Regions from separate parts of the Homo sapiens genome. Here all the other regions are linked to region 2. The links come from fine-mapping of genetic effects on gene expression. A gene starts in region 2. Each other region holds a variant in brackets. All regions are shown on one strand. Distances are between the middles of the regions.

What was found. PIP is the estimated chance that this variant, and not a neighbour inherited with it, causes the effect.
Region 1: its variant is the best candidate, but not a certain one, in a credible set for the expression of PIERCE2 in whole blood (INTERVAL, PIP 0.59).
Region 3: its variant is the best candidate, but not a certain one, in a credible set for the expression of PIERCE2 in skeletal muscle (GTEx, PIP 0.51).

Annotation. Positions count from the first base shown.
Region 1 is chr15:55,453,775-55,464,268 of GRCh38, forward strand. All of the region lies in intron 5 of DNAAF4 (dynein axonemal assembly factor 4), which reads right to left. The region is part of intron 4 of DNAAF4-CCPG1 (DNAAF4-CCPG1 readthrough (NMD candidate)); the gene reads right to left. Among named protein-coding and RNA genes, the nearest start is that of DNAAF4-CCPG1, 40 kb to the right of the region's middle. The variant A/AT (reference allele first, on the strand shown) is at 6,413.
Region 2 is chr15:55,403,108-55,413,601 of GRCh38, forward strand. PIERCE2 (piercer of microtubule wall 2) reads left to right here and starts at 5,388. Exons shown (of 2, transcript NM_001198784.2): 1 at 5,388-5,679. The coding sequence starts at 5,662. It overlaps CCPG1 (cell cycle progression 1), which reads right to left and starts at 5,252. Exons shown (of 9, transcript NM_001204450.2): 1 at 5,114-5,252. All of the region lies in intron 8 of DNAAF4-CCPG1 (DNAAF4-CCPG1 readthrough (NMD candidate)), which reads right to left. RefSeq lists enhancers at 444-738, 4,472-4,751, 5,112-5,381, 5,432-5,631.
Region 3 is chr15:55,465,399-55,475,892 of GRCh38, forward strand. It overlaps DNAAF4 (dynein axonemal assembly factor 4), which reads right to left. Exons shown (of 10, transcript NM_130810.4): 5 at 1,532-1,763. DNAAF4-CCPG1 (DNAAF4-CCPG1 readthrough (NMD candidate)) reads right to left here. Exons shown (of 16, transcript NR_037923.1): 4 at 1,532-1,763. Among named protein-coding and RNA genes, the nearest start is that of DNAAF4-CCPG1, 28 kb to the right of the region's middle. The variant T/C (reference allele first, on the strand shown) is at 2,482.

The sequences.
Region 1 (10,494 bases), 51 kb after region 2:
CTCCTGACCTCGTGATCCACCCACCTCGGCCCCCCAAAGTGCTGGGATTACAGGCATGAGCCACAGCGCCTGGCCAAAAAACAGAACTTTCAAAATGAAAAATATTGTCACTGAAATTAAAAACATCTTGGACAAGTATAACATAAAATTAGTCATGGTTGAAGAAAATTTATAAACTAGAAGATAGATCTGAGGATATTATACAGAAAATAGCTGAGGAAGATAAAGAGAATACAAGAAAGTTGGCCAGGTATGGTGGCTCACGCCTGTAATCCCAGGATTTTGGGAGGCCAAGACAGGTAGATCGCTTGAGGTCAGGAATTCAAGATCAGCGTGGCCAATATGGTGAAACCCCGTGTCTTCTAAAAATACAAAAATTAGCTTGGTGTGGTGGTGCACATCTGTAGTCCCAGCTACTAAGGAGGCTGAGGCAGGGGAATTGCTTGAACCCAGGAGGTGGAGGTTGCAGTGAGCTGAGATCGTGCCACTGCACTCCAGCATGGACAACAGAGCAAGACTCTGTCTCAAAAAAAAAGAAAAACATCTGTGTAATTTGAAAATATATATTGAAAACAAGAGAATACAATAATGTAATATTTGTTTGTTTTTGTTTTTGTTTTTGAGACAGAGTCTCACTCTGTTACCCAGGCTAGAGTGCAGTGGCACGATCTTGGCTCACTGCAGCCTCTGCCTCCCGGGTTCAAGCAATTCCCATGCCTCAGTATCCCAAGTAGCTGGGATTACAGCTATGTGCCACCACAGCCAGCTAATTTTTGTATTTTTAGTAGAGATGGGGTTTCACCATGTTAGCCAGGCAAGTCTCGAACTCCTGGTCTCAAGTAATTCGCCCAACTCAGCCTCCCAAAGTGCTGAGATTACAGGCATGAGCCAAGAAGGTAAATTACCAGCCAAGAAGGTAATATTTGAAGACAATAGTTTTGAAATTCCCAGAATTGATGAATGACAAAGTTCTCTGAGTGACAGTATGCTCCAAGTTATGATATTATGAGATAAATAAATATAAAATTGAACTTATACTAATGAACCCATAATATACCAAGGGAAAGAATTTTAAAACAACCAGAAACAAAGGATAGATTACTTTATTAAGCATCAAGCTAGATCCATTATACTTCATCCTGGGTGACAGGGTGAGATCCTGTCTCAAAAAAAAGAACAATATTAGAAATTAATAAATTATATAATTATAGATAAAGTACAGATAAGTAAATAAAAACTTTATGAAAATGAATTTGAATAGATAAAATGCACAATTTAGAAGACAAACTACCAAAATTGACTTTGGAAAATTTCAATAATCAATAACTATTATAGAAACTGAATCTTTTTTTTTTTTTAAAAAAACCTCCATAAAAAAACTCCAGACCTAGACAGTTTTAGGGGAAGTTTTACTAAGCCTTAAAACAACAGGTATTTCTCTTATCTAACTATATTGTTTCAAATAGTAGAAAAAGAAAAACGCTCTATAGTATATAGGTCTGGTACAATTTGGTATACAATCTAGACAAGAACAGTATGAGGAAAGAAAAATATAACTGAACCTCAATATGAAGATAAATGTGACAACTGCTTATAAAATATTAGCAAATTGAATATATATATATATATATATATATATTCAATCTAAATGACTTTTTTTTGTTTTTGTTGTTTTGAGACAGGGTCTCACTCTGTCACCCACACTGGAATGCAGTGGCGCGATCTTGGCTCACTGCAGCCTCTTCCTCCTGGGTTCAAGTGATTCTCCTGCCTCAGCCTCCTGAGTAACTGGGACTACAGGCGCATGCCACCACACCTGGCTAATTTTTGCATTTTTAGTAGAGACAGGGTTTCGCCATGTTGCCCAGGGTGGTCTGGAACTCCTAACCTCAGGTGATCTGCCCACCTCGGCCTCCCAAAGTACTGGGATTATAGGCGTTAGCCACCATGCCCAGGCTCTAAATGACTTTTCAATATGCCAAGCCTCACTGTTAAAGTTGTAAAGACATATGACCTGGTGGAAATAGCACAGGTTTCAGATGCAGACCAGATCTGGGTTCAAATCCCACAAGTTTACTTATTCATAGTTATTTTTTTTTTCTGAACATCTATTTCCTCTAAAATAAGAATAGCAGCACTTAGACTGAAGTGTTGTGAAGACTGAGTGACCCAAGCAATAAAATCCCCTGGCACATAGTAGTCACCTAATAAATGTTAATTATTATTATTATATATGTGATTTTACACTAAAATGTTAAATTTATAGGAATTCAATAATGACTTATGTAAGGAAAATACTAAATATTTCTTTTTTTTTTTTTTGAGATGGAGTTTCACTCTTGTTGCCCAGGCTGGAGTGCAATGGCAAGATCTCGCTTCACTGCAACCTCCACCTCCCTGGGTTCAAGCGATTCTCCTGCCTCAGTGCCTCCCGAGTAGCTGGGATTACAGGCACCCACCACCACGTCCGGCTAGTTTTGTATTTTTAGTAGAGACAGGGTTTCTCCATGTTGGTCAGGCTAGTCTTGAACACCCGACTTCAGGTGATCTGCCCGCCTCAGCCTCTCAAAGTTCTGGGATTACAGGCGTGAGCCACTGCATCCGGCGGAAAATGCATCCAAAACAAAGTTTAATATTCTAAAATTAGATAAAACCAAACTCGTAGCTTTCAGTATAGAATTATATTCATTGGGAGATAGGAGGGAAAATGGCAGATCGGAGACAGGATTAACATGCAGCTGCCACCTGGATGGACAGAACAGCATCTGGAGACTCACAATGCGAACTTTTACTCCAAGAATCACTTCAGGAACACCGCAAGAAACACTGTAGGAAAACTGAAAGAATTCACAGACCCTTTGAAAGAAGTGGTTCGCTGCTGCAAATGCCATGAAACAGCTGAAAAACCGTGAGTTCCCAAAGTGTGAGGGAAGAAAAGGTCAGTCTCTGAACATACATCCCCACTGGGGAACCTGAAAATCCAGATCACAGGGGAAGGATTTAACTTTACCCTGAGCTGAAATAGATTTAGGTAGCTGAGCAAAATATGAAAGTAGAAGAAGCAGCAGGAAGAGCCCTATAGGTACTTCCATCCCCAGCTGGAGTCCAAGGAAGCCATTCCTGGCGTGATCTCACAGAGGTCCTTGGAGACGGGAAGGCAGCCAGTGGAATTGGGGCAGGACCACAGGGTGAAGGAAGCTTGTAGCTGAACTTTGTAATAATTTTGACTGAGCAGGAATTTTCCTAAGCAGAAATTGGTGGCAGAGGGGGCAAATGGGAAGTACAGATGCGAGTGCAGAAGCCACAGCCAATAGTGTGGGCAGGCAGGGACTGGTGAGGCCTAACAGCCCTCTTGCTTTCTCAGTGGCAAGGCTTATAGTCTGGGGCAAGATCTCAGCCCTGCTCACCAACTGCCTGGATATAAACGCAGTGCGGTTGGGGTGGCATGGCCAGAGTGAGACTGGCCTTGGTGGCTGCCTGGGAGCTAGGTGAGGCCTGTCACTGCCAGCTTTCCCCCACCTCCCTGGTGACCTGTATAGCACAGCAGAGGCAGCCATAATGCCCCTGGGAACATAATTCCATTGGCCTGAGAATCCCCTCCACCCCCACTGTGGCCACAGCAAGCCCCACCCAAGGGGAGCCTGAGCCCAGACCCAACTAACCTTGCCCCCACCTGATGGGGCAAGGTTTTCTCTACCTGCTCTATGGCCCTGCCCATCACCTGAGAAACCCGAGTACTTGTCCCGGCCAACATCAAGATTATATCTCTCTTCTATACTGCAGCTGGTGCCCTCTTGAAAGTGCCACCTCCTGGCTGGAGCCCAACGAACTCAAGCCACCATAGCAACTCATAACAGAACAACCCTGCTCCAAAGAAGGAGAAAACAACAGCTAATTCCACTTCCTGCAACACCCTGTCTAGCCAGAGGTCCTGAATCTGTCCACGTGACAACTTCACTGCTTACATAACCAGTACTTGAAGTGCACTAAACAAAATTACAACAAAAGACTCCAACAGAATCCACTTCACTCACCTGCCACCACCAGAACAGGTGCTGGTATCCACGGCTGGGAGACCTGTGGATCACATCACAGGGCTCTTTGCAGACATTCCCCAGCACCAGCCTGGGGCCCAACTGGGTGGCTAGAAATAGAAGGGCAATAACAATCACTGCAGTCTGGCTCTCAGGAAGCCCCATCCCTAGTGGCAGGGGGAGGGCACCACATCAAGGGAACACCCATGGGACAGAAGAATCTGAACAGTAGCCCTTGAGTTCCAGATCTTACCACTGAAACAGTCTACTCAAATGAGAAGGAACCAGAAAAGTAATTCTAGTAATATGACAATACAAGGTTCTGTAACACCCCCAAAAGATCATACTAGCTCTCCAGCAATGGATCCAAACTAAGAAGAAATCTGTGAATTGCCAGATAAATAATTCAGAAGGTTGATTATTAAGCTCCTCAAGAAGGCACTAGAGGAAGGTGAAAATCAACTTAAAGAAATTTTTAAAAAAAGGAGGATATGAATGGAAAAGTCTCCAGAGAAATAGATATTATAAAGAAAAAATAATCAAAACTTCTGGAAATGAAAGACACACTTAAAGAAATGCAAAATACACTGGAAAGTTTCAACAATAGATTTGAACAAGTAGAAGAAATAACTTCAGAGATCAAAGACAAGGCTTTCAAACGAACCCAATCCAACAAAGACAAAGAAAAAAAGAATTTTAAAAAATGAACAAAGCCTCCAAGAAATCTGAGATTATGTAAACAAGCAAACATAAGAATAATTGGTGCTCCTGAGGAAGAAGGGAAATCTAAAAGTTTGGAAAACATACTTGAGGGAATAATCAAGAAAAACTTCCATGGTCTTGCTAGAGATCTAGACATCCAAATACAAGAAGCTCAAAGAACACCCGGGGAATTCATTGCAAAAAGATCATTGCCTAGGCACATAGTCATCACATTGTCTAAAGTAAAGATGAAAGAAAGAATCTTAAGAGCTGTGAGGCAAGGTCAGGCACAGTGGCCCACATCTGTAATCTCAGCACTTTGGGAGGCCAAGGCGGGTGGATCACGAGGTCAGGAGTTCGAGACCAGCCTGGCCAACCAAGATGGTGAAACACCATCTCTACTAAAAATACAAAAATCAGCCAGGCGTGGTGGCAGGTGCCTGTAATCCCAGCTACTCAGGAGGCTGAGGCAGGAGAATTGCTTGAACCCGGGAGTTGGAGGTTGCAGTGAGCCGAGATCACGCTACTGCACTCTAGCCTGGGTGACAGAGCAAGACTCTGTCTCAAAAAAAAAAAAAAAAAGAGCTGTGAGGCAAAAGCACCAGGTAATCTATAAAGGAGAACCTATCAGATTAACAGCAGATTTCTTAGCAGAAGCCCTGCAAGCCAGAAGGGATGGGGGTCCTATCTTTAGCCTCCTTAAACAAAATAATTATCCGCTAAGAGTTTTGTATCCAGTGAAACTAAGCTTCATAACCAGAGGCGAGATAAAGTCTTTTTCAAACAAACAAATGCTGAATTTGTCACTACCATGCCAGCACTACAATAAATGCTAAAAGGAGTTCTAAATATTGAAACAAAACCTCAAAATATACCAAAATAGAACCTCCTTAAAACATAAATCTCATAGGATCTATAAAACAATAACACAATGAAAAAAAATAAGGTACAGCAACAACTAGCATGATGAATAGAACAGTACCTCACATCTCAATACTGATATTGAATGTAAATGGCCTAAATGCTCCACTTAAAAGATACAGAATGTCAAATGGATAAAAATCAACCAACCAAGTAAGTCTTTTAACAGACTTGCCTAACATATAAGGACTCATAAACAGGGTGGAAAAAGATATTCCATGCAAATGAACACCAAAGTCAGCAGGAGTAGCTATTCTTTTTTCTTTCTTTCTTTCTTTCTTTTTTTTTTTGAGACAGAGTCTCCTTCTGTTGCCCAGGCTGGAGTGTAGTGGTGCAATCTTGGCTCACTGCAACCTCTGCCTCCTGGGGTCAAGCGATTCTCCTGCCTTAGCTTTCCAAGTAGCTGGGACTACAGGCACGCGCCACCACGCCTGGCTAATTTTTGTATTTTTAGTAGAGACAGAGTTTCACCATGTTGGCCTGGCTGGTCTCAAACTCCTGACCTCGTAATCTGCCCGCCTCGGCCTCCCAAAGTGCTGGGATTACAGGCGTGAGCCACTGCGCCTAGCCAGGAATAGCTATTCTTATACAAAACAAAGCAGACTTTAAAGCAACAACAGTTAAAAAAGATAAAAAAGGACATTATATAATGATAAAAGAATTAGTCCAACAGGAAAATATCACAATCCTAAATATTTATGCACCTAACACTAGAACTCTCAAATTTATTTATTTATTTATTTACTTATTTATTT[A/AT]TTTTTTTTTTTGAGACAGAGTCTCACTCTGTCGCCCAGGCTGGAGTGCCGTGGTGCAGTCTCGGCTCACTGCAACCTCCACCTCCAGATTCATGCAATTCTCCTGCCTCAGCCTCCTGAGTAGCTGGGATTACAGGTGCGTGCCAGCACGCCCGGCTAATTTTTGTGTTTTTAGTAGAGACGGGGTTTCACCATGTTGGTCAGGCTGGTCTCAAACTCCTGACCACCCGTGATCCACCCGCCTCGGCCTCCCAAAGTGCTGAGATTACAGGCATGAGCCACCGCGCCCGGCCGGAATTCTCAAATTTATAAAACAGTTATTATTAGACCTAAGAAATGAGATAGCACCACAATAATAGTGGAGGACTTCAGTACTCTACTGACAGCACTAGACAGGTAATCAAGACAGAAAGTCAACAAAGAAATAATGGATTTAAACTATATCCTAGAACAAATGGACTTAATAGATATTTACAGAATATTCTACCCAACAACTGCAGAATATGCATTCTTTTCATCAGCACATGGAACATTCATTCCAAGATAAACCAAATGATAGAACACAAAACAAGTCTCAATAATTTTTTTTTTTTTTTGAGACAGAGCCTCGCTTTGTCACCCAGGCTGGAGTGCAGTGGCGTGATCTCGACTCACCGCAACCTCCACCTCTTGGGCTCAAGTGATTCTTCTGCCTCAGCCTCCCAAGCAGCTGGGATTACAGGCCCCCGCCACCACACCAGCCTAATTTTTGTATTTTTAGTAAAGACAAGGTTTCACCATGTTGGCCAGGCTGGTCTCAAACTCCTGACCTCAGGTGATCCACCTTCCCTGGCCTCCCAAAGTGCTAGGATTACAGGCATGAGCCACTGCGCCCAGCCATCTCAATAATTTTTTTTTTTTGAGACAGAGTCTTGCACTGTTGCCCAGGCTGGAGTGCAGTGGTGCAGTCTCGGCTCACTGCAAACTCCGCCTCCTGGGTTCATGCCATTCTCCTGCCTCAGCCTCCCGAGTAGCTGGGACTACAGGTGCCCCCCACCACGCCTGGCTAATTTTTTGTACTTTTAGTAGAGATGGGGTTTCACCGTGTTAGCCACCAGATTCTGGTCTCTGGTTAGAGACCAGAATGGTCTCGATCTCCTGACCTCGTGATCCACCCACCTAGGCCTCCCAAAGTACTGAGATTACAGGTGTGAGCCACCACGCCCAGCCCATCTCAGTAAATTTAAGAAAATCAAAATTATATCAAATACTCTCTAAGACCACAGTGGAATAAAACTGGATATTGACTTCAAAAGGAACACTCAAAACTATACAAATATATGGAAATTACGTAACCTGCCCCTGAATGATCTTTGGGTCAACAATGAAATCAAGACGGAAATTTTAAAATTCTTTGAACTGAACGATAATAGTGACACAACCAGTCAAAACCTCTGGGATACAGCAAAAGCAGTGCTAAGAGGAAAGTTCATAGCACTAAACGCCTACATCAAAAAGTCTGAAAGAGCATAAACAGACAATCTAGGCTCACACATCAAGAAACTAGAGAAAAAAGAACACATCAAACCCAAACCCAGCACAAGAAAAGAAATAACAAAGATCAGAGCAGAACTAAATGAAACTGAAAGAAAAAAATACAAAAGAAAAATTAAACAAAATGCTGGTTCTTTGAAAAGACAAACAAAACTGATAGACCATTAGTAAGATTAACCCAGAAAAGAATAAGATCCAAATAAGCTCGATTAGAAATGAAATGAGAGAAATTACAACAAATACCACAGGGATACAAAAGATCATTCAAAGCTACTATGAATACCTTTGTGCACACAAACTAGAAAACCTACAGGAGATGGATAAATTCCTCAACCTAGAAGGAATTAAACAATCCTCCCAGATTAAGCCAGGAAGAAATAGAAACTCTGAAAAGACCAATAGCAGGTAGGGAGATTGAAACAGTAATTTAAAAATGGCCAACTAAAAAAAGTCCAGGACCAGATGGATTCACAGCTGGTTTTTTTTTTTTAAGACAGGGTCTTGTTCTCTTGCCCCCAGGCTGGAATGCAGTGGTGAGATCTCGGCTCATTGCAACCTCCATCTCCGGGTTTAAGCGATTCTCCTGCCTCAGCTTCCCGAGTAGATGGGATTACAGGCACATGCCACCACACCCTGCTAATTTTTGTATTTTTAGTTAGATGAGGTTTCACCACGTTGGGCAGGCTGGTCTTGAACTCCTGACCTCAGGAGATTGCCTGCCTTGGCCTCTCAAAGGCTGGGATTACAGGTATGAGCCATGTGCCCAGCCCAACAGCTGAATTCTAACAGACATTCTAAGAGAACTGGTACCAATCCTATTAAAACTATTTCAAAAGATAAGGAGGAAATCCTCCCTAAATCATTCTACAACGCCAGTACTACCCTAATACCAAAACCAGGAAAGGACATAACAAAAAAAAAAAAAAGAAAACTACAGAACAATATCCCTGATGAACACAGATGTAACACTCCTCAACCAAATACTAGCTAACCAAATGCAACAGCATATCAAAAAGGTAATACACCATAATTAAGTGGGTTTCATACCAGGGATGCAGGGCTGGTTTAACATACACACACAAAAAATCAATAAATATAATACACCACATAAACAGAAGTCAAAACAAAAATCATACAATCATCTCAATAAATGCAGAAAAAGCATTTGAGGCCGAGTGTGGTGGCTCATGCCTGTAATCCCAGCACTTCGGGAAGCCGAGGCAGACGGATCATTTGAGGTCAGGAGTTTTGAGGCCAGCCTGGCCAACATGGCGAAACCCTGTCTCTACTAAAAAATACAAAAAGTTAGCTAGGTGTGGTGGTGCACACCTGTAATCCCAGATACTGGGGAGGTTGAGGCAGGAGAACTGCTTGAATTTGGGAGGCAGAGGTTGCAGTGAGCCAAGATCATGCCACTGCACTCCAGCCTAAGGAACACAGTGAGACTCTGTCTCACACACACACACACACACACACACACACACACACACACAAAGCATTTGACAAAATCCAGCATCCCTTTATGACTAAAACCCTCAGCAAAATGGGCACAGAAGGGACATACCTTAAGGTAATAAAAGCCATCTTTGACAAACCCATGGCCAATATTATAATAAACAGTGAAAAGTTGAAAGTGTTTCCCCTGAGAACTGGAACAAGACAAGGATGTCCACTTTCACCAACACTATTTAACAGAGTACTGGAAGTCCTAGCCAGAGCGATCAGACAAGAGAAAGAAAGAAAGAGCATCTAAATCAGTAAGGAGGAAGTCAAGTTGTCATTGTTGGCCAATGATATGATCGTATACCTAGAAAATCCTAAAGATTCATCCAAAAAGCTCCTAGATCTGATATATGAATTCAAGTAAAGTTTCAGAATACAAAATCAATGCACACAAATCAGTAGCACTACTATACACCAACAAGGACCAGGCTGAGAATCACATCAAGAACTCAACCTCTTTTACAACAGCTGCAAAAAAACCCAAAAAACAAAACAAAAAACCAAAATACTTAGGAATATACCTAACTAAAGAGGTGAAAGATCTCACAAGGAAAACTACAAAACACTGCTGAAAGAAATCATAGATGACACAAACAAATGGAAATACATCCCATGCTCACAGATGGGTAGAATCAGTATTTTGAAAATGACCATACTGCCAAAAGCAATCTACAAATTCAGTGCAATTCCCATCAAAATATCATCATCATTCTTCACAGAACTAGAAAAAACAATCCTAAAATTCATATAGAACAAAAAAAGAGCCCATATAGCCAAAGCAAGACTAAGCAAAAAGAACAAATCTGAGGGGATCATATTACCTGACTTCAAACTATACTACAAGGCCACAGTTACCAAAACAGTATAGTACTGGTATAAAAACAGGCACATAGGCCAATGGAACAGAATAGAGAACCCAGACATAAAGTCAAATACAGCCAACCAATCTTTGACAAAGCAAACAAAACCATAAAGTGGGGAAAGGACAACCTATTCAACAAATGGTGCTGGGATAATTGGCAAACCACATGTAGGGGTATGAAACT
Region 2 (10,494 bases):
GTAAATGCACTTAGTACAATAATACTTCATATGAGTAGATAACTCCACCACTTACAAAGCAATTTCATTTTCATATCTGATTTAATCTTCACAAATACCCCCATAAAGGCAGCTTGCTATTATTTACAAATTCCAAATGAAAACGAACAGAAAATTATAAATAATAACTTCCTCAACATCATTAAAAATCCTCTGATTTCCAACCTAATGCTCTTTTTACATTTCAACATGCTGGCAATATGAACCAGAAGTAAGATTTTGTAAGATTTTAAAAGAATAGTGATTTGGATAAGTACTTAAAAAAAAAAAAAGATTTCAGGCTTCCTGTGATGACAGAAAAAAATACTTAACTCCCACTTCTTATTTTCTAATACTTCCTCAGGTAATTCTATAGACCCTTAAAGAGGTTTCCACACATTAAATACCCTTTGGGGGAAAAAATCCCTTTATTTATCACTTAATTACAATCCTTCCCATATCATAGGGCTGAATTTCATCTTAGAACTCAAATTGAGAGAAAATATGGCCAAGTTTATCTGATGCAATACATTGCAAATGACCTTTGAAACCAAGTGTTTTAGTCTAGTTACAATTATGGAACTGTCAGGAAGGAAATTTGTGAAAATGTAATCCTTTATCACTTACAATACTGCAACTTCCTCATCTTCACCACAAAGAAACACAAACATAATTCAGCCTCCAGCAGTTCTGCACTGTTAGATGAGTCTGCATTTTTTGTTTAAAGTACCTTGGACTTAACAGGCCTTGCTGCTGTGTTCATGTTCTTAACATGTTCAAAAACTACTACTTCCATGATTTTAGCAGTTCATATGCACCTAATTTTTAAAAGTCTTTCTTTAACTTGCATAAGAATATAATTATACAACCCATACAATAATACTGTGGAATGAGTTAGTAAATCAGACATGTTAATCAATTATGAATTTTTCTTATGCCCTGTGAATAGACCCAAAGCCTAATAACATATTGAGCCAACTCAGTACACAGAATATACAAAATTATAAGGTAAAAAATATTGAAAAGAAATTGACATTTGGAGTAGGCAAGCTCCAAAGAAGACAACCTAAGAAAATAAAGTATGAACACCACAACCTGAAAAACAACGTGTTACCAGTGTTTTTTGTAAAACACTTTAGAATAGATATTTTATCCAGTGTTAATGGACACTTGGTGTTAAGGTAAACCCCCTTAATTTTTAAGGGCTGATAGTAGCCAAAAAAAAGAAAAATGTACTGTATATTACTGTGGAAGAACAATGTAGCCCTTTACAACAGAAAGCAAAATGTGGGCTAATGATTGATTATACTACTTACCAGTCCATATCCAACATAACCATAACAAAAAATAAAAACAAAAATAGACATAAGCCAAAATATCAGACATATAAAACATGGTTCTGAACGTGATTCAATGTTGACAAGTTTAAGATTTTCCAGGCTTAAGTGAAGAAAAGCTAAGTACTTTCACCTCTGATTTAACTGTACAAAGTGAAAAGAAACCAGATCAAAAGATGGGATGTACAGGCCAGACATGGAGCTCTCATGCCTGTATCCAGCACTCTGGGAGGCTAAGGCAGGAAAATCGCTTGAACCCAGGAGTTCAAAGAGACCAGCCTGGGAAACATAGCGAGACCCTGCCTCTACATAAAATTTTAAAATTAGGGCCAGGTGCGGTGGCTCACGCCTGTAATGCCAGCACTTCGGGAGGCCCAGGCAACCGGATCACGCATTCAGGAGATCGAGACCATCCTGGCCATTATGGTGAAACCCCATCTCTACTAAAAATACAAAAATTAGCCGGGCATGGTGGTGTGTGCCTGTAATCCCAGCTACGTGCCTGTAATCCCAGCACTTTGGGAGGCCAAGGCGGACAGATCACTTGAGGCCAGGAGTTCATGACCAGCCCGGCTAACATGGCAAAACCCAGTCTCTACTAAAAATACAAAAATTAGGTCAGGGGCAGTGGGTCACGTCTGTAATCCCAGCACTTTAGAAGGCTGAGGCAGGCGGACCACCTGAGGTCGGGAGTTTGAGACCAGCCTGACCAACATGGAAAAAACTCTGTCTCTACTAAAAAATGCAAAATTAGCCGGGCATGGTGGCACATGCCTGTAATCCCAGCTACTCGGGAGGGTGAGGCGGGAGAACCACTTGAAACCAGGAGGCGGAGGTTGTGGTGAGCTGAGATCTTGCCATAGCACTCCAGTCTAGGCAACAAGAGCGAAACTCCGTCTCAAAAAAAAATTTAGTGGGGCATGGTGTCACATGTCTGTGACATGTGACAGCTACTGGGAGGCTGAGGCAGGAGAATCACACTTGAACTCAGCTTGAATCACACTGTAATCCCAGCTACTAGGAAGCAGAGGTTGCAGTGAGCCGAGACTGAACCACCATACAATAGAGCAAGACTCTGTCTCAAAAAAAGTAATAGCCAGGCCTAGGCCTGGTGACATGTGCCTGTAGCCCCAGCTATGTGGGAGGCTGTGTTGGGATCACTTGAGCCCAGGAGGCTGCAGTAAGTCGTGTCCAGGCCACTGCACTCCAGACTAGGTGACAGAGCAAGACATCATCTCCAAAAAATAAAATGAGATCTACAAATGCTACAAATTGTCGGATCTGTTATTTTCTTCGAGTCCAACTATTTCATTTATTGTCCCTACTCTCCAAATAATTTACACTTAAATTCATATAGTCTACAGATGCAGCAACAGGGACTTTGCCTGTGTTTTTTACTGTTGTTGCTTATTTGGTGTTTTTGAGACAGTCTCACTCTGTCACCCAGGCTAGAGTACAGTGGCATGATCTCGGCTCACTGCAACTTCTGCCTCCCGGGTTCAAGCGATTCTCCTGCCTCAGCCTCCTGAATAGCTGAGATAACAGGCATCCGCCACCATGCCCAGCTAATTTTTGTATTTTTAGTAGAGACGGGGTTTTGCCACGTTGGCCAGGCTGGCCTTGAAGTCCTGACCTCAAGTGATCCGCCTGCCTTGGCTTCCCAAAGTCCTGGGATTACAGGCATGAGCCACTGCTCTAGGCCTTTATTTTCTTTTTAAAGTAATGTTCATAGAGTCCATAACTGGAATTGCTGCTTTTTTTTTTTTTTTGCATAAGGGTGGGGCTTTCCACTAGAAAGTGAAAAAAATGATATAGAAACTCTCAAAGTGCTGTTAATACTTGCATCCTTTTTTAAAAGTTTTTTCTACAGAAAACTTGAAAAATACAGGAAAGTACAAGAAAAATCATTTCTAGTTTCACTATCTACACTTTTATAACTGTGAATATCCTTTATTTCTTTTCTTTCTTTTTCTCTTTTTTTTTTTTTGTTTTTTTTTTTTTGTTTTTTTGAGATAATCTCACTCTGTCACCCAGGTTGGAGTGCGGTGGCCAGATCTTGTGGCTCACTGCAACCTCCGCCTCCCGGGTTCAAGTAATTCTCCTGCTTCAGCCTCCCAAGTAGCTGGGTTTACAGGCTAATTTTTGTATTTTTAGTAGAGACGGGGTTTCACCGTGTCGGCCAGGCTGGTCTCGAACTCCTGACCTCAGGTGATCCACCTGCATGGGCCTCCCAAAGTGCTGGGATTACAAGCCTGAGCCACCGCTCTGGACCCTTTAAGTCATTTCTAAAAGAAGTTATGTTCACTTTTTGTTCCATGGTTTACAAAATTGCAATTACACTATTTTCTAAACTGTTTTCATCTAAGAAGGAGTATTTCCCACACCTTTAAATTGTATTTGGGCTGATTTTTAATCAGCTTTTTTGACTGAAATTCCGCCCTCAGCGTAAAAGGTTAAAAATTATGAATTAACGCCCGCGCGGTGGGTCACGCCTGTAATCCCAGCACTCTGGGAGGCCGAAGTGGGCGGATCACGAGGTCAGGAGTCCAAGACCAGCCTGGCCGACACGTTGAGACCCCCCCCCCCGCCCCGCCGTCTCTACTAAAAATACAAAATTTAGCTGGGCGTGGTGGCGGGCGCCTGTAATCCCAGATACTCGGGAGGCTGAGGCAGGAGAATCGTTTGAAACTGGAAGGCAGAGGTTGCAGTGAGCCGAGATCGCGCCACTGCACTCCAGCCTGGGCAACAAGAGCGAAACCCTCTCTCAAAAAAAAAAAAAATATGAATTAAAATAATACCCTCACCATCTCCATCTTCTGCTATATGACCTGAACTCAGAAAATAAAAGTAAACCATTCACACTGGATGTGTGTGATAAATATCCCCTGAGACGTGTGGGACCCAATATGATTCTAATCTTAAAAGATACGATGCAGTAATAGCGATATTTCAAGCACTATCCTGTAGATTGGAGGAGACAAATCTAAAATTCATAGTACTATATAGTTAGCTATTCTAACTACAAGAATGCCCAACTGTGTTTTTCAATAAAAGTAGAGCAGAACAGTGCAAACTTCACCACTCAATAAAATACCTTACTTGGCGCTCCCAATAGTGCTAAACATAAACAACGCGTACAAGGCACTGCATGGGACAGCTGCTAATGAGGACAAATCGATTAGGGAGACCAAAGCTAAAGGAGGCCACTGGAACTGGAGAAGGATATGGAGAGGTATTTGATCATCATCAGGCTGGCGTGCTAGCGGAAGTCTCCGGGCATTATTTAATATTTAATCTTTCTATTCCTGACATCACGGGGGCTCAAATGTCATCAAAAGACAGGCTGGCATTAAACCCGGCAGGGTGACGCACATAACATCTTACCATATGGATTTTCATCAGTCCAGACCGACAAGCACCTCAAAGCCTGCCCAGTGAAGGAAGAAGGGTGGCCCAGGCCGTCAGCTCTCCCACCCTTGGCGCGCAGTTCGGTATAGCACTCGGGGTTTGGAGGCTGCAAGACCACCGGACCGGACGCCCCAGGGTCGGCTCGGGCCTCCGGAGCTGTGCACTCGCGCACGGCCCGAGGAGGTCGCCCGTGCGGCCGCTGACACCAGGCGTCAAGTCCCCGCCCGAGCAGCCCCAGCCTAGGAGGCGGACCCCGCCACTGCTCCTCTACTGAGCCGAGCGTGTCGGCCAGGGACTCAGACAGTCGGCACAAACCCCCTCCCGGGGTCTAAGCCCGCCTAGTACAGTACCTGAAGGGGCAGCGCCACCTCCGCCCGATTGTGCTGGCTGCCCCAGTGGCGGCGGTCACAGCTCGGGCGCCAATGACGCCTCTTATAAAAACAACCTGCTCGCAGGCGTCTGCAGCCGGCAGGCGGTGACCGGCTGGGCGCCGCAGTGCATGCCGTGACGCGTAGTCCCGCCTGCGCCTCCTGCCCGGCAGCGGTGAAGAGAAGAACTACCACTCCCGAAGTGGAGCGCAGGCCGCCGCCGGGCGGCTGCGGGAAGCTGGGCCAGGCGGCCGCAGATCCCCACAACATCCGGGAGCCGGCGACCACTTCCAGTTGCTATGGTTACGAGTTGCAACCTCCAGAAAGAATTCGTGGTTTCACCCGGGAAAACAGCTCCCCGGATTAAACGGATAGGTTTACACATACTGATCCACCCAGCTATTCATCTTCTGTTTGCTGCTTTAATTGGGTGCGGTTAAAAGGCCACGTCCCTAGGCGTTCACCGGCTTTCTTGCCATCTGCTGCATGAAAACTGACTTTGCCGAAAAAATTAACAAAGAAGAGCGAAAATGACAGACCGCAACCGGGTGAGTTTAGGCAGAGGGCTAGATGTTTGGGAATGTTGGTATTCGCTAGTATAATTTGAGGCACCACCTACTCCTACCACCCCCAACCCCACAACCCCGAAAAGCACTTTACAAGGCAACTACTGAGCTTTTACATTTACACTTGTAAATGCACGTTTCCTTAAGTCCGAATAGCCTCTGAAGGTGTAAAGACCATCGAGATTGTATGCATTCATACCCTACTGTTGCAAACTGTTCAGTGATGGTTTTGAACAAGAAAAACGTACTTTGTTAATTGTATACTTATTTAAATTGCACTGTGTCAAAGAAGGGAGTTGTTTTGAAAAAGGATTTGGTGGCCGGGCGCCGGGGCTCAACGCCTGTAATCCCAGCAATTTGGGAGGCCGAAGCGGGTGGATCACCTGAGGTCAGGAGTTCGAGACCAGCCTGACCTACATGGTGAAACTCCGTCTCTACTAAATACAAAAAATTAGCCAGGAGAGGTGGCGCGGGCCTGTAATCCCAGCTACTTGGGAGGCTGAGACAGCAGAATTGCTTGAACCTGGGAGGCAGAGGTTGCAGTGAGCCGAGATTGCGCCACTGAACTGCAGCCTGGGCAACAAGAGCAAAACTCCGTCTCAAAAAAAAAAAATCTTACATTTATATTCACTCTTTACAGAAGCAATAAAAAGTTTAGGTTTCATTCTCTGTCCCCTAATTGTGGTAAAAGTAAATAAATAAATGGAAAAATTAATAATAAACGTAAACATTAGCAAGGAAGACGGTGGACCTGAGCAGAGACAAAAGAGTGCCTCAAAATTAGACCTTTTTTATTTTTTATTTTTGCTTTTCTATTAACTATATTCAACATCAACAGTGACATCAAAAAATCTTAATTTTATAATTACAGCTTCTGCGATGGGCATTATTAATCAATGGCTTGTTTTCATTTATCTTTTTAAATGTATATGTATCTATACCAAAGGACTTCGAAAGGTCAAAGTGGTCTGGCTTTCTCTAACTGAAAATTAAATTACTAAGAAAGCTAATACCAGCTACTGGTAGATTTTTATACCTTTCAAGCCACTTTCACAGGCCAATTTTAAGATGTAATTTCTTCTGAAAAATCATTTACAATTTTAATTAACCTTTTTATCATTTAATAAAAGTTGATGACATGTGGCAGATAATTTGAACTCATCCTTTTATTATTCTTTGTATTGGCTATTTGTTTCGTTCTTAACTATAGTCAGTTTGAACTCCACATTTTAAGAATATCAGGTTTGAAGAAGGTGAAACCCATATTAGAAAACTGCAGTGGTTGTCTATGATGTAAAGTATAAAGCAATGGACCTTTTGTTTCTGAATCTATAAACATTTGTGAATTATCCTGGAAATCTAAAAAATTTTTAATTTAAGATTTAGCTTTTCCAGATTTTATGGTACTAATTATGCCAACAAAGTTTATCAGCTAATTTGTCTTCTGTTTTTACTAGATTTCGTTTTCTGCATTATGTTTTGAGCCAAAGCTGAACGAAATTCTAGAACCAGTAGTAAAGAGGGTCATTTGATAACAAGAAGAGTTCTCAGCTGGGCGCGGTGGCTCATGCCTATAATTCCAGCATTTAAGGCCCAGTACTCTGGGAGGCCGAGGCAGGCGAATCGCCTGAGTTCAAGAGTTCGAGACCAGCCTGACCAACATGGAGAAACACTATCTCTACTAAAAACACAAAATTAGCCGGGCGTGGTGACGCATGCCTATAATCCCAGCTACTCGGGTGGCTGAGGCAAGAGAATCGCTTGAATCCGGGAGGCGGAGGTTGCAGTGAGCCAAGATCACGCCACTGCACTCCAGCCTAGGCAACAAGAGCAAAACTCCATCTCAAAAAATAAAAAAATAAAAAAGAGTTCTCAGTGACTGAAGGAGATAGTATTAACAACAACAACAACAAAATCTACAAGTTGCCCTGGGCAACCTGCTTAGGTGCCCATAAAAGTAAATTACAGTGGTACTTTTCTGCGCAAGTCACAGGGCCTCCACCTTCCACCTATAAAGCTTTCCCCTGTGCTGAGGAAACCTAGAAAATTTAAGAAAAGCTGATCAGTTGAGATACCATCAAAATTTTAAAATTCTTATGATTTACTATTATCCAGTATCTGTGTTGTTAATATTTAAAGCAAATTAATAAGCAGTTTCAAAAAGAATAAACAGCAAGATCTGATGAGAATAACATTGATGACACTCAGTGAACCTGAGTTCTATTTCCAGCTTTGCCAACTACAAACTTATGAGTATTAAGTGAATATTAGCAAACCATATTATGCTAATACAAGGTCATTAACCTGTAGGTTTCAGAACTGTTTCTGGAAGATCATACATTGAGGTAAACCTGCAAAAAAGAAAATAATAAAATTTGGTGAGGCATGGTGGCTCACGACTGTAGTCCCAGCACTTTGGAAAGCTGAGGTAGGCGGATCATCAGAGGTCAGGAGTTTGGGAACAGCCTGGCCAACATGGTGAAACCCCATTTCTACTAAAAACACAAAAATTAGCCAGGTGTGTTGGCAGGCACCTGTAGTCCCAGCTACTCTGGAAGCTGAGGCAGGGGAATCACTTGAACCTGGGACGCAGAGGTTACAATGAGCTGCGACTGCGCCACTGCACTCCAGCTTAGGTGACAGAGCAAAACTCCATCTCAAAAAATAAAATAAAATAGTGATAAAAATTGATTCCATTTGGCCAGGCGCAGTGGCTCACACCTGTAATCCCAACACTTTGGGAAGCCGAGGCAGGTGGATCACTTGAGGTCAGGAGTCCAAAACCAGCCTGGCCATCATGGTGAAACCCCATCTCTACTAAAAATACAAAAATTAGGCTAGGCACGGTGGCTCACGCTTGTAATTCCAGCACTTTGGGAGGCCGAGGCGGGCGGATCACCTGAGGTTGGGAGTTCGAGACCAACCTGACTAACATGGAGAAACCCCATCTCTACTAAAAATACACAATTAGCCAGGCATGGTGGTGCATGCCTGTAATCACAGCTACTCGGGAGTCTGAGGCAGGAGAATGGCTTGAACCCAGAAGGCGGAGGTTGCGGTGAGCTGAGATTGCACCATTGCCCTCCAGCCTGGGCAACAAGAGCAAAACTCCTTCTCACAAAAAAAAATAAATAAATTTAGCTGAGCGTGGTGGCGCACGCCTTTAAGCCCAGCGATTTGGGAGGCTAAGGCAGGAGAATTGCTTGAACCCAGGAGGCAGAGGTTGCAGTGAGCCAAGATCACACCATTGCACTCCAGACTGGGCAACAGAGTGAGACTTTGTCTCCACAAAAAAAAAAAAAAAAAAAAAAAAATTGATCCCATTCATATAGTGATTCACCATTTACATCAAATTTTCTTTCATTTAATCTCCACAACCATAGGAACTATGGCAGATTTTTATTTACCAGTTTTACAGATAATATACAAATAAAGGTGAAATGATAAAGTATGAGAACCTAGGTCATAGTTGCTGCCTTGTGCTACTCTTCCAATATATCACATCCAGCCCTCTTTCGCTTATGATTCTCATTAAAATAAAGCAAAACATGAAAACATAGTATACTACACTGTGATTCTGCCTCAAGTTTATAAGGTTAATAAATTCTGTGGAGTTGGTAGAAGAGATCTGAGAGGTCAAATAATCCAGGCTCCACTGTTTTACAAACAAATTTTAGGCACAGAGAATCTAAGTGACTTGTCCAAGTTTAAATTGCTTTATATTTGATTCATATTTTCAGTCCCCTTATTCATGGAAAAATACTTTCAAAAACTTTAGTAGGGACACTATTCAGGTAGAACATTAATAATTGACTGAAAGCTGGACACTGTGGCATGTACCTGAAGTCCCACCTTGAGAAGCCAAGGCCTGAGGATCACTTCAGCCCAGGAGTTCCAGGTTGCAGTGCACTATTATCCCATTTGTGAACAGCCAGTGCACTCCAGCCTGGGCAACAAAGTGAGATCTCTGTCTCAAAAAAAAGAAAAAGTTGATGAAGAGTAGATTGAATATGGTTTTATAGTACTTTTAAGTTAAAAGCTGGGGATTGATATGGTAGCTTATGCCTGTAATCCCAGTGCTGTGGGAAGCCAAGGCAGGAGGATTGCTTGAGACCAGGAGTTCAAGACCAGCCTGGGCAACATAGCAAGACCTCATCCCTACAAAAAAATTATAAAAATTAAGGCTGGGCGCGGTGGTGCGCACCTATAATCCCAGCACTTTGGGAGGCCAAGGCGGGCGGATCACGAGGTCAGGAGATCGAGACCATCCTGGCTAACACGGTGAAACCCCATCTCTACTAAAAATACAAAAAATTAGCCGGGCACGGTGGCTGGCGCCTGTAGTTCCAGCTACTCGGGAGGCTGAGGCAGGAGAATGGCGTAAACCCAGGAGGTGGAGCTTGCAGTGAGCCAAGATCGCGCCACTGCACTCCGGCCTGGGCAAAAGAGTGAGACTCCGTCTCAAAAAAAAAAAAAAATTATAAAAATTAGCTGGGTATGGTGGTGTGCATGTAGTCCTAGCTACTTGGGAGGGTCACTGGAATCCAGGAGTTTGAGGCTGCAGTGAACTACGATCACTACTGCACTCTAGCCTGAGTGACAGAGAAAAACTTTCTCCCTTCTCCACACCAAAACAGTTAATTAAAAGCTGCCCTTTAAGAATGTTTTTAAGGGCCGGCCGTGGTGTCTCACGCCTGTAATCCCAGCACTTTGGGAGGCCAAGGCAGGCAGATCACTTGAGGTCGGGAGTTTGAGACCAGCCTGACCAACATGGAGAAACCCTGTCTCTACTAAAAA
Region 3 (10,494 bases), 62 kb after region 2:
CACACACACACACACACACACACAGACACACATACAATCATGGAATGCTACTCAGCCATAAAAAGGAATAAAATAATGGCATTCTCGGCAACCTGGATGGAGTTGGAGACGATTATGCTACATGAAGTAACTCAGAAATGGAAAACCAAATACCATATGTTCTCACTTTTTTTTTTTTTTTTTTTGAGACAGAGTTTTGCTCTTGTTGCCCAGGCTGGAATGCAATGGCACGATCTCGGTTCACCATAACCTCCGCCTCCCAGGTTCAAGCGATTCTCCTGCCTCGGCCTCCTGAGTAGCTGGGATTACAGATATGTGCCACCACACCTGGTTAATTTTGTAATTTTAGTAAAGATGGGGTTTCTCCATATTGGTCAGACTGGTCTCGAACTCCCAACCTCAGATGATCTGCCCGCCTTGTCCTCCCAAAGTGTTAGGATTACAGGCATGAGCCACTGCTCCTGGCCCATGTTCTCACTCATAAATGGGAGCTGAGCTATGAGGATGCCAAGGCATAAGAATGATATGGGCCTGGGGACTAGGGGGGAAGGGTGCAGGGGTGAGGGATAAAAGACTACACATTGGGTGCAGTGTACACTGCTTGGTTGATGGGTCCACCAAAATCTCAGAAATCACCACTAAAGAACTTATACATGTAACCAAACACCACCTGTTTCCCCAAAACTACTGAAATAATAATTTTAAAAACACACACATACAAAAACTGAATTATATTTGTATCAGCTGGACATGGTGGCTCATGCACACAATCTCAGCACTTTGGGAGGCCAAGGCAGGCAGATTGCTTGAGCTCACGAGTTCAAGACCAGCCTGGGCAACATGGCAAAACCTCGTCTCTACAAAAAATACAAAAAAGCATTAGCTGGACATTGAGGCACATGCCTGTAGTCCCAGCTACTTGGGAGGCTAAGGCAGGATGGCTTGAGCTGGGGAGGCAGAGGCTGCAGTGAGCTCAGATCACACCATTGCACTCCAGCCTGGGCGATAGGGCCAGACCTTGTCTCAAAAAAAAAAATTATATTAATTTATCTGTTTTTGAATACACCAAGATTAAAAGCTAGAAGCAATCTTTATTTGCTGTAGAGTAAGTCTGCTTATAGTACTCATTTTCCTAAGTGATGTGAGGAAAAGGTCTTTTAATGAAATTCCTAGTTTCTTATCTCTAATGGAATAAATGAATGCTTCTGACATTGCTAGTCCACTCCAAGTCTTTTTGGGCCTGAGTTAAGCACTTATTTAACAACATCTTTGTAAATTTCAAAAGAAAGCACACAAGCAAAGAAGACACTCTTCTTTTCGAATCCTTGAACGAATCCTTGCTCATTTTATTAGAAAACTTCATTATCCCCGAAAGAAGAAATGTCTTTACTTTAGTCTTTGTACTGAATTGCTTATTCTCAATGTGCCAAAACAGTAACCTAATGCTGTGAATAGATTTACAAAAAAAGAAAAGCGTCATATATACTTCACCAACAGGACTCACTACTCAAGAAATTCTTAATCATTTTACCTTTTGGAGCAAGATTTCTAGATGCCAAATTTCTAGTAAGACTCTTATATTTTATTTTTTTTCTTTCTTCTTTAATTTGCTTTTCTTTTTGACATAATTTCTCTTCTCTCTGAATTTTTTTTTGCTCCTCAGCTTTTCTTTGATATTCTTTCCAGGCTTCCAATGCTTTAGTGGCTTTTATCCGTTCATTTTCTTTCATATCTTCTATTTTTTTCCTCTCTTCTTCTTCAATCTATAACAATTGCAATTACCAAATTCTTTAAAATACATAAAAGCAACATTTATTTAAATGAGAAATTCATTACAATAATTAGTTATTCATACCTCTAAACTCTTGCCATTGTATTTGTAACAATAGGTAGTAGTGAATTATGAATTAAAATGGGAAAGGTAAATGATTCAGGAGAAAAACCATTGGTGTTGGAGTCATGGAACAAAGATTTTAGTCCCAGATCTACCATTAGCTGTATGGTCTTAGGCAATCACTTTCTCCAACCTCAGTTTACTTATATGTAAAATGTGGGCAGGCATTCAATTAGATGATACCTAAGGGCTTGGTAGAAAAAATAATAGAAATTTATTATTCTAGGAGTTAAGCCACTTCTCTCAAAATCTACACACACACACACACACACACACATCCCAACACATATATTCAAACATTTGCTTTTCAACTTATCCCAAGTCTTACCCTGTCAACCGAAGTTGTGCCAACCCTTCAGTCCTAAGGACTGAAGGAAGAGGGAACAGTAGAAAAGGAAATAGGAAGGATGAACAAGACGGTCTGTCTCTGCTGGGTGGAAATATTTGAAGTCTTAATCCTGCTGCAAAACCTATGTTTGCACTAGTAGTTGTCTGACACTTTCAAAGAGCTAAATATCAGATGAATTTGAAAGCAGTATCTTGTACAGGTGTGTGGCAACTTTTCTGCCTTTCAAACTTCCCTCACA[T/C]GGGCAAGAAAAAAAACCTTGTGAAACAGAGTACCTAGTTGGTGTACATGATTGACTCCATGTATCTGACTTTCCTATGGTAAGAAAAATTTCTTACCTCTATCCACTAGAGAAGCACTTACTTCAATGATCAAAATGTCTGTGCTATCCAATATAGTAGCCACTAGCCACAGGTGGCTAATTAAGTACTTCAAATGTGGCTACTGAGACTCAGGAACTGAATTTTTAATGTTATTTAAGTTTCATTAATGTACATTTAAATTAATTTACATTTAAATAGGACATCTGAAGTGGTTCTAGACTATGGATATGCTAGGATGAAGGTCCCTAAATGTTGTATTACTTTAAAATAGAGATTTAACATTACGAGTATGAAACCTGTGCACTGAAAGGTGCTCTGTAATATCTACATGACATAATACTCTCTTCTAGAAGACTGATTATTTTCCTGTGAGATGCTGACTTTAAAATAAATTTCACGGGACACTGAATGAAAATTTCCTGTAGTCCCAATTTTACCTCAGGCTTAAATTAAGCACAAAATATGCTAATTATTACTATATATTCTTAGTTCAGAGAGTTGCCAGTAAGCTGCCAACAGATTGAACCAGGAAGAATCTACACATGGCAATGAAACAAAATTTAAATGCCTCACAATAAGGCATGATGAACACTCCATGTTAGAGAGGAAGCCACAACCTAAAAGACGACTTCACCCAGCCTAATTATATGTCTGCCTTTTTTCACTCTCTGCCCCAACACATGAAAAAGGGAGAATATGTGGAGAGTCAGACACCCTCACCCATCATACTCCCTGCAAGAAGAATGAATTTTACATGAAGTTTTTAAAATGCATAAGACTAAGTCTTAATTACCAAAAATGAGACTGTTCTTACAACAAAAAATAACAGGAAAGTTCTGGTATTATAGCCAAGATGTAGTTAAGGGAACTATAGGTATAATGATAATTTATAATAAGCTATATTAGAGACAGAAATAGTCCAGCTCTTCAGAGAGTAGTGATGAAGAGGAGAAACCAAGAAAGGCTTCACAGAGTAGGTAACAGAAGGAACTACAATGAAGAGAAAAACATGAAGAAGAAAATAACACAAAGCTTATGATAAAGAGAAAAGAGACTACATGTACCAAAGAAAAACAGAGTGTACAGTGACCGGGCGCGGTGGCTCACGCCTGAAATCCCAGCACTTTGGGAGGCTGAGGCAGGTGGATCATCTGAGGTCAGGAGTTCGAGACCAGCCTGGCCAACATGGTGAAACCCTGTCTCTACTAAAAAATACAAAATTTAGCCGGGCTTGGTGGCAGGCCCTTAATCCCAGCTACTTGGGAGGCAGAGGGAGGAGAATCATTTGAACCTGGGAGGTGGAGGTTGCAGTGAGCCGAGATAAAGCCATTGCACTCAAACCTGGGGGACAAGAGCGAGGCTCCTCTCAAAAAAAAAAGAAAGAAAGAAAGAAAAAGAAAAACAGAGTGTACAGAGAAAAAACAAACTGTTTATGCCTCTTATATACTCTCACAACACTCCATAGGTCACTTCCATCACGAAACTTGTGGGTTTCTCCTATGCTTACCAATTCTTTTTTTTTTTTTTTTTTTTTTTTTTGAGACGGAGTCTCACTCTGTCGCCCAGGCTGGAGTGCAGTGGCGCAATCTCGGCTCACTGCAAGCTCCGCCTCCTGGGTTCATGCCATTCTCCTGCCTCAGCCTCCCGAGTAGCTGGAACTACAGGTGTCTGCCACCACACCTGGCTAATTTATTTTTTTTTTATATTTTTAGTAGAGACGGGGTTTCACTGTGTTAGCCAGGATGGTCTCGATCTCCTGACCTCGTGATCCGCCCACCTTGACCTCCCAAAGTGCTGGGATTACAGGCGTGAGCCACTGCGCCCGGCCTATGCTTACCAATTCTCTAACATCAGCTATGTGTCCTCTAATTCAGTTCTGTCATTATCTACCCGGAGTTAGCATTAGATCCCACAGGTTAAGGGCTCAATTCCATAAGACAGTCTCCACACAGATGCCAATCATAAGTCCAGGACTCCCATATTTCTAACCAATCAGCTATAAGTTGGGGGTTTCTACAACCCCCTCCTCAGGTTTGACCATTTGCTTCAATGGCTCACAGGAATCAGATAAATACCTCGCTTATATTTACCCCTTTTTTTTTTTTTCTGAGACGGAGTCTCACTCCGTTGCCCAGGCTGGAGTGCAGTGGCACGATCTCGGCTCACTGCAACCTCCGCCTCCCAGGTTCAAGTGATTGTCCTGCCTCAGCCTCCTGAGTAGCTGGGTCTACAGGCACATACCACCACGCCTGGCTAATTTTTGTATTTTTAGTAGAGACAGGGTTTCACCATGTTGGCCAGGCTGATCTTGAACTCCTGACCTCAGGTGATCCACCCGCCTAGGCCTCCCAAAGTGCTGGGATTACAGGCGTGAGCCACCGCGCCCAGCCATATTTACCCATTTTTAATAAAAAGATGCAAATCAGGAAGAGGCAAATGAAAGAGATGTCTAGGGAAAGATACCGGGGAAGGAGCACAGAGTTTCCATGCCTTCTCCCTCCAAGTGTTCAGCAACCCAGAAGTTCTCCAAACCTCATAGTTACAGGAATTTTATGGAGGTTTTATCTAGCAGGCATGACTGGGTTTTTTTTTTTTTTTTAGACAGGGTCTTGCTCTGTCACCCAGGCTGGAGTGCAATGGCGCAATCATGGCTCACTGCAGCCTCAACCTCCTGGGCTCCAACGATCCTCCAGTTCAGCCTTCTAGGTAGCTGGGACACAGGCACATGCCACCAAGCCTGACTAATTTTTTATGTTATTTTTTTGTAAAGATGGGGTTTTCCCTTGCTGCCCAGGCTGGTCTTGAACTCCTGGGCTCAAGTGATCTACCCACCTCAGCCTCCCAAAGTGCTGGGATTTACAGACATGAGCTACTATGCCTGGCGGATTTTTTTTTTTTTTTTTTTTTTGAGACAAGGTCTTGTTCTGTCACTCAGGCTGGAGAGTGCAGTGGCACAACCTTAGCTCACTGTAGCTTCCACTTCCTAGGCTCATGTGATCCTCTCACCTCAGCCTCTCAAGTAGTTGGGACCACAGGCCCGCAGCACCACGAATGGCTAATTTTGTTGTTGTTGTTTTTAGAGTCAGGGTCTCACTATCTATGTTGCCCAGGCTGGTCTTGAGCTCCTGGGCTCAAGCGATCCTCCCACCTCGGCCTCCCAAAGTGCTGGAATTACAGGCGTAAGCCAGTGGACCCAGCATGATTGATTATTAAGTCAGTCTCCAGCCCCTATCAAAATGATGGGGAGGGGTGCTGCAAGTTCCAGACAACTAGTCATAGCTTGGTCTTTCTGGTGGCCAGCCACCACCCAAGAGCCCATCAAGAGTTGCCTCATTAGAACAAAAGATTTTCCTATTACATAGGAAATTCCAAGGGATTAGGAGCTCTGTGTCAGGAACCTGGGTCAAAATCCAAATAATTTAACAAAAGATGAACCTAGCACCCCATCACTCAGAAAATTACATGGGTTTTAGGAGCTCTATGCTAATAACAAGAGGCAGGGACCAAATATATATTTTTTATGATGTCATAAAGAGATGGACAAATGTTAAACTTTTTTTTTTTTTTTCTCAGATGGAGTCTCACTCTGTCGCCCAGGCTGGAGTGCAGCGGCACGATCTCGGGTCACTGCAAGCTCCACCTCCCGGGTTCATGCCATTCTCCTGCCTCAGCCTCCCGAGTAGCTGGGACTACAGGCACCCACTACCACGCCCGGCTAATTTTTTGTATTTTTAGTAGAGATGGGGTTTCACTGTGTTAGCCAGGATGGTCTCGATCTCCTGACCTCGTGATCTGCCCGCCTCGGCCTCCCAAAGTGCTGGGATTACAGGCGTGAGCCACCACGCCCAGCCAACAATTCTTAAAGATATTTTGTTATTTATTTACTTACTTATTTTGAGATGGAGTCTTGCTGTGTCACCCAGGCTGGAGTGCAGTAGCACGATCTTCGCTCACTGCAACCTCCGCCTCTCGGGTTCAAGCAATTATCCTGCCTCAGCCTCCTGAGTAGCTGGGATTACAGGTGTGTACCACCATGCCCGTCTAATTTTTGTATTTTTAGTAGAGACAGGGTTTCATCATGTTGGCCAGGCTGGTGTCAAACTCCTGACTTCAAATGATCCACCCGCCTCAACCTCCCAAAGTGCAGGGATTACAGGCGTGAGCCACCGTGCCCAGCTCTTAAAGATATTTTAAATAAAAATCATCTAATATAGGAAACACACAATTTAACACAGACACCGACAAATATTAAACAATCCTTGAAGGTCTTTCAAAGAAAAATCATCTAATACAGGGAAGACACACGGAGGAATATGCAGTAACAGAAAAACTCAGAAGGCTAAAATAATAATCATCGTACATAAAGGACTGGAGGCCCGGGGGCAGTGGCTCATGCCTGAAATCCCAGCACTTTGGGAGGCCCAGGCAGGTTGATCACTTGAGGTCAGGAGTTCAAGAACAACCTGGCCAACATGGTGAAACCCCATCTATACTAATAATACAAAAATTAGGTGGGTGTGGTAGCATACACCTGTAATCCCAGCTACTTGGGAGGCTGAGGCAGGAGAATCACTTGAATCTCGGAGGCAGAGGTTACAGTGAGCCAAGATCGCCCCACTGCACTCTAGCCTGGGTGACACAGTGAGACTTCTCAAAAAAAATAAAATAAACAAATTGGGTTTTAGGTGTTTGTACTGTTCAAAAAAGGATGCCATTTACTACAGGTTATTAGTTTAATGCAGACAGCAAATAAAACTAATACGAGAATAATGAATAGTTCCTACACTAAATTTTTGAAGAAGAGGAAATGTATAATTCTTTTAATCTAGAATGAATGTCTGGTCAACAAGGCATTGTTCTTTATAAGCCAATCCCACTTGTGAATTACATGCAAAAATTGTAAATAAAACATTAGCAAACTCAGCCCGGCATGGAGGCTCACGCCTGTAAACCCAACACTTTGGGAAGCCGAGTCAGGCAAATTACTTGAAGTCAGGAGTTAGAGACCAGCCTGGCCAAAATGGTGATAACCCATCTCTACTAAAAATACAAAAATTAGCTAGGTGTGGTAGCGCACACCTGTAATCCCAGCTATTCGGGAGGCTGAGGCATGAGAATCGCTTAAACCCAAGAGGCAGAGGTTGCAGTGAGCCGAGACTGCGCCACTGCATTCCAGCCTGGGTAACAGAGTGAGAGGCCACCTCAAAACAAACAAAAAAAAAACCTAAAAAAAAAAAATATATATATATATATATATATATGTGTGTGTGTATATATATATATGTGTGTGTATATATATGTGTATATATGTGTATATATATGTGTATATATATGTGTATATATATGTGTGTATATATGTGTGTATATATATGTGTGTATATATATGTGTGTATATATATGTGTGTGTGTATATATATATATATGCAAACTTAACCTAGAAAAATATTAAAATTATAATACACCTTAATCAAATAGGGGTAACTTAACCTAGGAAAATATTAAAATTATAATACACCTTAATCAAATAGGGGTAACTTAACCTAGGAAAATATTAAAATTATAATACACCTTGATCAAATAGGGTCTTTCTTACTTAAGGTATTAGGAAATCAATAGAGAAAAGCATTATGATGTCAGTGTATGCCAAAATGTCAGTTGATATTGGGAATAAAAATAAGAAATAAAAATTTATAAGCTGGATAGAAGGACCAAGACTATGTTATACTTCATGACGAAATATTAGAAATAGCCGGGCGCAGTGGCTCACACCTGTAATCCCAGCACTTTGGGAGGCCGAGGGAGGTGGATCACCTGAGGTCAGGAGTTCGAGACCAGCCTGGCCAACATGGCAAAACCCCTATCTCTACAAAAAATAAAAAAATTAGCTGGGCGTGGTGGCACACAACTGTAGTCCCAGCTACTCGGGAAGCTGAGGCAGGAGAATCTCTTGAACCTGGGAGGTGGAGGTTGCAGTGAGCCTAGATCACGCCACTACACTCCAGCCTGGGTCACAGAGCAAGACTCCGTCTCAAAAAAATAAAAATAAAAAATAAAAGAAATATTAGAAATATTTCCAGCAAAATCACTAAGGCAAGTATACCTAATGTTTTACTATTTTCCTAGAGGTCAGAACCTAAATGATAAACTTTTAAAAATAAGAAATACAAATATAGATTACAAGGAGATAGAATTGCATCATTTGCAAATAATAGTACACTACTTAAAATAACCAAAATAATAAACTGACAAACCAAAAGTAAGTTCAGCAAGGCAGTCACATATAAAATCAACTAGCTGGGCGCGATGGCTCACGCCTATAATCTCAACACTTTGGGAGGCCGAGGTGGGCAGATCATGAGGTAAGGAGTTCAAGATCAGCCTGGCCAACATGTTGAAACCTTGTCTCTACTAAAAATATAAAAATTAGCCAGGCGTGGTGGTGCATGCCTGTAGTCCCAGCTACTCAGGAGGCTGAGGCAGAAGAATCGCGTGAACCCAGAAGACGGAGGTTGCAGTGAGCCAAGATTATGCCACTGCACTCCAGCCTGGGCGACAGCGTGAGGCTCCATCTCAAAAGAAAAAAAAAGATCAACTTATACAAACTTATAAAAACAAACTTACTTTCCTACAAACTGGCAATAAATAATTAGAAACTACAATGGAAACGTTAATTTCATCAGCAATCACCAGAAAAACATAAATGAATAAGCTTAGCAAAATATAAGCAAGTCATAAGGCCAGGGGCGGTGGCTCATGCCTGTAATCCTAGCACTTTGGGAGGTTGAGGTGGGCGGATTACCTGAGGTTGGGAGTTCAAGACCAGCCTGGCCAACATGGTGAAACCTCGTCTCTACTAAAAATACAAAAAGTTAGCCAGGTGCAGTGGCGCACGCCGTAATCCCAGCTACTCTGGAGGCTGAGGAAGGAGAATCACTTGAACCTGGGAAGTGGAGGTTGCAGTGAGCCAAGATCGCGCCACTGCACGCCAGCCTGGGATACAGAGACAGACTTCGTCTCAAACACAAAACAAACAAACAAAAAATATATAAGCAAGTCATATATGTGTGTTAAATAATTTTGCTGAGAGATGTAAAGTATATCCAAATAAATGGAGATAAATGCCATGTTCCTGGAGGGAAATCTCAATATTATAAGTATGTTGATGCGCTGCAAATTTACAAAGTCAATGTAAATTCAATCAAAATACCAAGAGGACTTCTTAGGAAACTTGATAAGTAAATATAAAATTCATCTGCAAAGACAACATGCAGATTTTGTGGCAACATGAAGAGGTTGGCAATTCCCCTCCACAAATATTAAGGATAAAACTGGATAAAATTATCAAAAACAACCATTTCAGGGGACTGGAAATTAACCAAAAGAAGACTACAAAGAGAAAAGTCTTTAGTCTAGAAAAGCTGCTAAAGTTCTAAGTATGAAAGGTAAGAAGCTGTGCCCTTTGGCCTGAGGTTGCTCCTAAAACCCCCTCCCAGCTAGGATGATGAGCCTGGCAATTTTACTGGCTGAATATCCCTTGTCCAAAATGCTTGGAACTAGAAGTGTTTCAGATTTTGGATTTTTTTCAGATTTTGGAATACTTGCAGAATACACACTGGCTGAGCATCCTTACTCCAAAAATCTGAAATCCAAAATGCTCCAGTGAACACTTCCTTTGAGCATTGTGTTGGTGCTCAAAAGTTACAGATTTTGGAGCATTTCAGATTTTGTATTTTTTGATCATAAATGCTCAACCCATACCAACATGAAACTACCAAAAAGAACCTAGCAGTTTGTTGCTAAAAAGGGTGGGCTCATTTCCGGGTAGGGCAGTGAAAACCTGTAGCTTTGGTGGATAAAAGTGCTAGGCTTGGTTGGGAATAAAGAGGAAAACTTTGCAGTTGGTCTGAGGTTGAGATCCTGGTTAGGATAAG